2 separate regions of the Homo sapiens genome follow, and region 1 is reported to be linked to region 2. The links are microRNA targets in miRTarBase. Many come from high-throughput screens and were not tested one by one. Region 2 holds a microRNA gene; the other region holds the end of a gene's coding sequence.

Evidence for each region. The annotated mature microRNA hsa-miR-2276-3p reads UCUGCAAGUGUCAGAGGCGAGG and lies in region 2 at 2,216-2,237, opposite strand. An mRNA with a match to its seed (bases 2 to 7 or 8) in the 3' UTR can be bound and repressed. Matches are read on the target gene's strand: a 7mer-m8 pairs with bases 2 to 8, a 7mer-A1 pairs with bases 2 to 7 and ends in A, and an 8mer does both.
Region 1: the mRNA of APOL1 is a reported target of hsa-miR-2276-3p. Seed matches in the 3' UTR shown: 7mer-m8 at 2,153-2,159.

The regions. Positions count from the first base shown.
Region 1 is chr22:36,265,598-36,268,999 of GRCh38, reverse strand. It overlaps APOL1 (apolipoprotein L1), which reads right to left. Exons shown (of 6, transcript NM_003661.4): 6 at 1,475-3,402. The coding sequence ends at 2,967. Among named protein-coding and RNA genes, the nearest start is that of APOL1, 14 kb to the right of the region's middle.
Region 2 is chr13:24,161,304-24,164,705 of GRCh38, reverse strand. MIR2276 (microRNA 2276) reads right to left here and starts at 2,290; the gene lies at 2,202-2,290. All of the region lies in intron 1 of SPATA13 (spermatogenesis associated 13), which reads right to left.

The sequences.
Region 1 (3,402 bases), not on the chromosome of region 2:
ATTGCCCATATGGATGGCCCATTCAAAAACTTCTTGTATCAACGTTTCCTCCTTCCCTCCTGGATCCTCAGTTCTGCTCCTAGAATCACTTCCTAGAAACCCTCTGCACCAGAACGTTGCCTCTGGCTCTTCCTTCACAGGACCCCAGGCCGCAACAGGCTACTTTAGGCAGCATCATGGCCTACATCTTTGTGCTAAGAGTAATGGGAAGCCATTGAATGGTCAGAAGTGGGTGCTCGATCAAATCTATGTTCTTAGGTGGGCACGGTGGCTCGTGTCTGTAATTGCAGCCCATTGGAATGCCAAGGCGAACAGATCACCTGAACTCAGGAGTTTGAGACCAGCCTGGGCAATGTGGCACACACGGATGGTCCCAGCTACTCAGGGGGTCAAGGTGGAAGGGTAGTTTGAGGCCGGGAGGTCCAAGATGCAGTGAGCCATGCTCATGCCACGGGACGCCAGCCTCACAACAGAGTGAGACCAAACAAACAAACAAAAAACCCCCAAAAACCCAAAACATGATCTTGTTAAAGCCCAACCTGGCGCAGTGTGGAGAATGATCCAGGACATGGGCAGGGACGGGCAGTTGCACATGGAAGACCATTCTGGAAGTTCTTGCAGGAGTCTGGGCAAAACGTGAGGACAGACTGGATGGGGGTGTTTGCTGTCTGGATGTCCCTCTTTGCCCCTCTATTACTCGATAATCTTCTCCCAATCTGCACACAGGCCCCTCTGACACTAGTCAGCCTCGAGCGTCCCATGTCAATCCCGGGCTCTGACTCGCAGATGGAAACCACACCTGTGCTCAGCCAGAGCCAGACATGTACAAGCTTTCTGTGGGTGCCCCAGTGGGGTTGGTGGGGTTTTGAGGTCTCAGGGAAATGACCAGCTGGGAAAGTGAGAGTCCAGTGAGCAAGCAGGAGGGGCCATGGAAGCCTCGTTTCCCGAGACCCTGGAAGAAGGATCATGAGGAAGGGAAGTCAGGCACCCAGAGCCCAGGGGAGCCTCCATCGGCACCACAAAGGCACAGCCATCAGTCAGTGCTGATTGGACCCAAGTCTCCAGGACACAAGATGGGGAGAGCTGGGTGGACCTGAGACATCACCTTGTCCAGGTACCCTTCTACAGCTGATGAGGAAACTGAGGCTCAGAGAGGCGAGGTCTCGTGACCACAAGCGGGGTTGAACTCCTGGACACACCTCAAGGTTCCTTGACCTGTTCCTGGCATCTCCTTTCATTTTTCCTTTCTTCCCAAATTAACCTCTTTCCAACACAGCACTTCAAGTTCCCCTGGAACTTCATCGGTCCATCGGTGTCCCCTGGTCTGGAAGAGCACCGACCACTTGCCAAGGCCCCCACCACTCTGCTGCCATCACAACCACCATCACCACCATTACGAGAAAAACTTGAGACTGATGGCCCCCAAAGCTTGGAAAGAGCTGAGAGACCAAAGAATGACTCGAACAAGTCCAGCTTGATGAGTAGGTGAGTTTATTGGGACTTACACACAGGTCAATCCTGGGCGGCGACAAGACAGCTCTAGAGATCTGAGCTTCCTCCCAATGCTAAACTGCTTTCATGCTAATTTTCTGACTGTTTACTTACCGGGTAAGAGCGATGGGACTGTTTTCATTGGTTGGTTCTCACATACTCTCTGGGAAGTTTGGGTTCTCAGGGACACCTGCTCCTCAGCTGGGGACCATGGCCATGGCCCACCACCTGCCCTTCAGTGTTCAAGCAGGGGACATGCACCCTTTAGTAACCTGGAGGGGACCCATCACATGACAACCACCCCAATGACCATCATCAGGAAGCCGCTGCCTGACTGAGATATGCCCCCAGGAGGACAAGGGAGAGTGGATGCTGGAAAGACAGGGCAGGGGACCATCACCAGGGAAAGACTTCATTCTTCGGAGGACATTGAACCTGGGGCTGGGTCTGTAGTGGAGCCGCTGTTTCTTCTCCTGTATCCAACTGTTCTAACTCTTGGGCTTTCTCCATTTTCAGCTCTTTCTTTTCCTGGCCTTCTCATTGCTGGTTCCTTCAAGCCTCCTCTCTATTCTTCCGTCAATATATTCTTTTTTTTTTTTTTTTTGAGATGGAGTCTCGCTCTGTCACCCAGGCTGGAGTGCAGTGGCGATATCTCGGCTCACTGCAAGCTCCACCTCCCAGGTTCACGCCATTCTCCTGCCTCAGCCGCCCAGTTAGCTGGAACTACAGGCGCCCGCCACCATGCCCGGCTAATTTTTTGTATTTTTAGTAGAGACGGGGTTTCACTGTGTTAGCCAGGATGGTCTCGATCTCCTGACCTCGTGATCCGCCCGCCTTGGCCTCCCAAAGTGCTCGGATTACAGGCATGAGCCACTACACCCGGCCCCCCAATATATTCTTTAGTCTAAAGTAAACTGCTTCTTCCCATTCCCCACACTCTCCAGTTCCCATTTTTCCCTTATTGCAGGCTCCAATGTTCCTGCCTTCTCCTTGCTGCACTGCCATCTGCATTAACCCCTCCCCTGCTGTGCTCAGCTATGGAAATGCCAAAGTCCCTAACACTCAGTTCCATAAACTTTACCTCACCCTCTTTATCCCCCTAATAAAATGTTTGCATTTGGGTCAAAAGCGATGGCTCACGCCTGTAATCCCAGCACTTTGGGAGGCCAAGGTGGGCAGATCAAGAGGTCAGGAGATCGAGACCATCCTGGCCAACATGGTGAAACCCCATCTCTATTAAAAATACAAAAATTAGCTGGGCATGGTGGTAGGCGCCTGTAGTCCCAGCTACTTGGGAGGCCAAGGCAGGAGAATCGCTTGAACACGGGAGGCAGAGCTTGCAGTGAGCTGAGATCGCACCATTGCACTCCAACTTGGCGACAGAGCAAGACTCTGTCTCAGAAAAAAAAAAAAGTTTGCATTTTGTCCTGGCCCCTGCCAGGCATATCTCTCCTGGTGGCTGCCCTGCCCTGTGGTCACAGTTCTTGGTCCGCCTGCAGAATCTTATAATTATTGTTGAGAATGTTTAGCTTCTCCTCCAGCTCCTGAGCCACCTTCTTCAGCTCCTCAGCTGTCTCTGACTTTGCCCCCTCATGTAAGTGCTTTGATTCGTACACGAGGTAGACTACATCCAGCACAAGAAAGAAGCTTACAGGGGCCACATCCGTGAGCTTGACTCCTCTGCTCATTTCCAGGATGCTGGGTTCATTAACCCTCTCCACCTGTTCACCGCTTTCAGCTGAGATTGGCTCAGTGACCCGGGGGCGTGAGGCTGAGGCATGCGGTACTGACTGAAGATTGGCTCTGGCTCGTCTGAGGGCACGGATGTCCTTCCCAATGCCTCGTGTGAGTTGGTAAGTATTGCCAGCTAAGGAAAGAAAGTTGGATATGTTCTCACCCAAAAACTCCCTC
Region 2 (3,402 bases):
GCAGCCCGGGGTCCAGTCTCAGTCTTGCCACTTACTATGGGGCTCTGGCCACGACAGCTTCCCTGAACCTCCATCTCATTTAGGGAGCAATGAAACTTGACTTGCTCCTCAGTTATAACCATCCTCACCTAAACCACAGAACACAGAGGATACCTCACGCAAATGCTTCCTCCCTTCTCCCCAGGATGGTACCTGATCACCCATCTCATCCTAGGAGGGAGTGATGAAGCCATCACATAGGATGCCTGCCTCAGGGCATCAGGGTTTCATTCTGTCAAGACAGGCTGGTATGGAGGAGGTGAGCATCACAATTCAACAATACCCTGCAGGTTCCCTGGGGAGCCAAAAGAGGCATTAAACATGGAGGGAGCAGAGGCAGGAGCAAGGGGGCTCAGTGGGAGTCCAGAGAAGGATGTGGGTACAGCAGAGGCCAACAGAAAAACAGCAACCTACTCTATGCTCCCCCTTTACTGCTCTTTCATTTGTGATGCAAAGATGAGGAAAATCAGGTAAGCACTTTGTACCAATGCATTTCTCTCCACAAATGTAAAATACAATTAAACATTCCAGGTACTGATTTTCAAATTGCCATGTATTATATAGTTTCCCTCAAGAAAACCATGTACATTTGGTGTTCATTCCTGGTGTTTTAGAAATAACAATGATAGTTCTTTCTAAAACATTTGAATTTATACCACTGTGATGTTATGATCCCATTTATGCTATTACATGTCTCATAGGCAAACATTTCTTAAATGTTTAGTTTTCAGACAAAAAAGAAAGGAAAGCACTGATGAGTTCCCCTTCTAAGTGAAACCTTCCAATGCCTCTTAGCTCAAGGGAAAGGAAGGGGAAAGAAACTTTGTTGCTTCCAGCAGCAAACAGAGAGGTCAACCTACCAAGCTATAGGGCCAGGCATTGAGCCCTGAACCAGAGAAGCCTTAGAGCCAACTTTGTCCTGCTGCTTTCCCTTGAATATGCCATTTTATTTCCCTGGACCACGGTTTCCTCATCTGTAGAATATAAAGTCCCTTTCAGCTATCAAGGTGCATGCTCTGCTTCAGTATCTGTAAAGTAGAAATACTACTTGCCTCCAACTCTTAGGAAGATAAAGACTAAAAAAGAAATGTTTGGACAAGGCTTTAAGATTACATAATGAAATGGATATAAATAAGACTCATACAGTCACACAGCTAACAGAGACCATAAAGATCTGTCCAGCTAAAGTGAAACGGAACTCTCAATGCACGGGAGGAGACAGCTGGCAGTAGTCTTCTTTTTTAATTTAACTTAATTTTTTTAGAGACAGAGTCTCTCGTTCTGTCACCCAGGCTGCAGTGTAGTGGCAAAATCATAGCTCACTGCAGTCTCAACCTCCCAGGCTCAAGAGATCCTCTCACCTCAGCCTCCTGAGCACCTTGGACTACAGGTGAGTGCGCCATCACAACCAGCTGATTTCTTATTTTTATTTTTTAGAGATGGGGTCTTGCTATGCTGCCTAAGCTGGTCTTGAACTCCTGGGCTCAAGCAATCCTCCTACCTCGGCCTCCCAAAGTGCTGGGATTACAGGCATGAGCCACTGTGCCCAGCCAGGTCATTTTTATGCCACTTTCTTCAGGGCTTCCTGTGGCTAAGAGGGAAAGTAGACTGATAGCATGGATGAGGTGACAGCCCAGGCACTGGCCCCAGGCTTTCTGAGGGACAGCCGGCATTAGGTTTTTCTCCATGCACTGTCCTACAGGTATAGAATTCATGTCCTCCACTGGTGTACATTGCAGACTAAATAAAACATGTCATATAACAACCTCCTTTCCAAAGCTAAACTCCAGGCATGCCTGAGTTCAAGAGGTCACCCAGCAGGGAAGCTCCACTGTCTGGTGAGAAGAGGGCCTCCACTGCTAGGCAGTGGCAAGAAGCCATGCCGGTTACCTCCTCTGAGCCTTCCTTTTCTCATCTGTCAAATGGGGACAGTAGTAGATCCTACATTATAGGGATGTGTGGAGGATTTTAAATGAGTACTGATGCACGTTAAGCCCTCAGAACAGTGCTTGGCACACACCCAGAGTTTGGTAGATGCTACCTAACATCAATATTGACATTAATTCTAGAACTATGTAGAGGATACGACTTCAATAAGAAAACAATCAGTCAGAAGCAGTGGCAGAAGGGAGGGTCCTGAAATCCAGAGTCCTCCTGCAGAGATGCAGCTGCCACTCCTCGCCTCTGACACTTGCAGACATTCGGAGAGAAAGCCGTCTGCAAGGTGACAGAGGGCGGACTGGAAGAACACAAGGAACCCAGGGATGCTGATGGAGCATGGAAAACCGCAGCAGAAGGCACTGAGGCAAGGTGTGCCCTCCAGGCGGGGCAGGCTGTGGCTGGGCAGAGCGCCTGCCAGGGAGAAGTAGGGCAAAGGGAAGAAAGCACCTGTGGGAGAAACATGGGGAAACAAGGAAGAAACCTGCATATGCACGGGAGCACAAATAAGGAAGGAGATGGGAGAACTGGGTGGAGGCAGATGGCAAACGTGGGGGCCAAGGGAGGTAGATGAGAATTAGGATATGGGATAATAAGACAAAGCCACATGAAACTCTAAAGTGCGGGAGGAGGGCAGAGAACAGGGAGGGTGCATGACAGGCACCCCGAGAATAATGCAGTGAGGAAGTTTGCAAGACGGGGGAGGGGGACATTAGGAAAAAAGGAGAATTTGTTGGGAAAGGTGGAAAAAGAAAAGGAGTGAGATTTCTCCGCCTGTTAGCAAGGGGAATAAAGGAGAGCAAATCGCTGGGTGACCAGGAAAGGTTCACAGAGAAGAAAACACGAGGCAGCAAAAACCGAAGGTGGGGACAGAGAAAATGCTGGCAGGGGGAGGTGCATAATATAAGGCTATGGGAAGCCATGGGAACAAGAGCTGAATAAATTCACAGTATTATTCTATTTATCCACATCCCTATGCAATGCTGGGAAGCAAATGACCCACAGGGTTTTGTTTGCTTGCTTTGGTTTGGTTTTCCTGCACTTGGAGGGAGGGGAAATTTGCTCAAGCTCTGTAACCTTGCAGTCAGATGGGTGGCCCAGCCCAAGTCACCCGAGCTCCCCCTGACGCTGGCAGCAGCGCGGGCTTCTACCTGCCTGGGGCTGGAGTACCAATTCCCCCACCTCCTGCACAGAATGGGACCAAACCAACTCCGCCAATGCATTCCCTGCAGTCCACAGACGATGGGCACCGGGTCCCAAAATCTTTCCCCTGGGACGAGACTCCGCTGGTACCAAGAGAAACTTGCTTTCTAAACTAAGCTCTCCAACCGCATCGCTCCGGGTCCCCGGAGGCACCAGCCACGCCACCCGATGGAGCAGAGCGTTACAGGGCTCCGCCGCGCCAGGCTCCCCAGACTCTGCCAC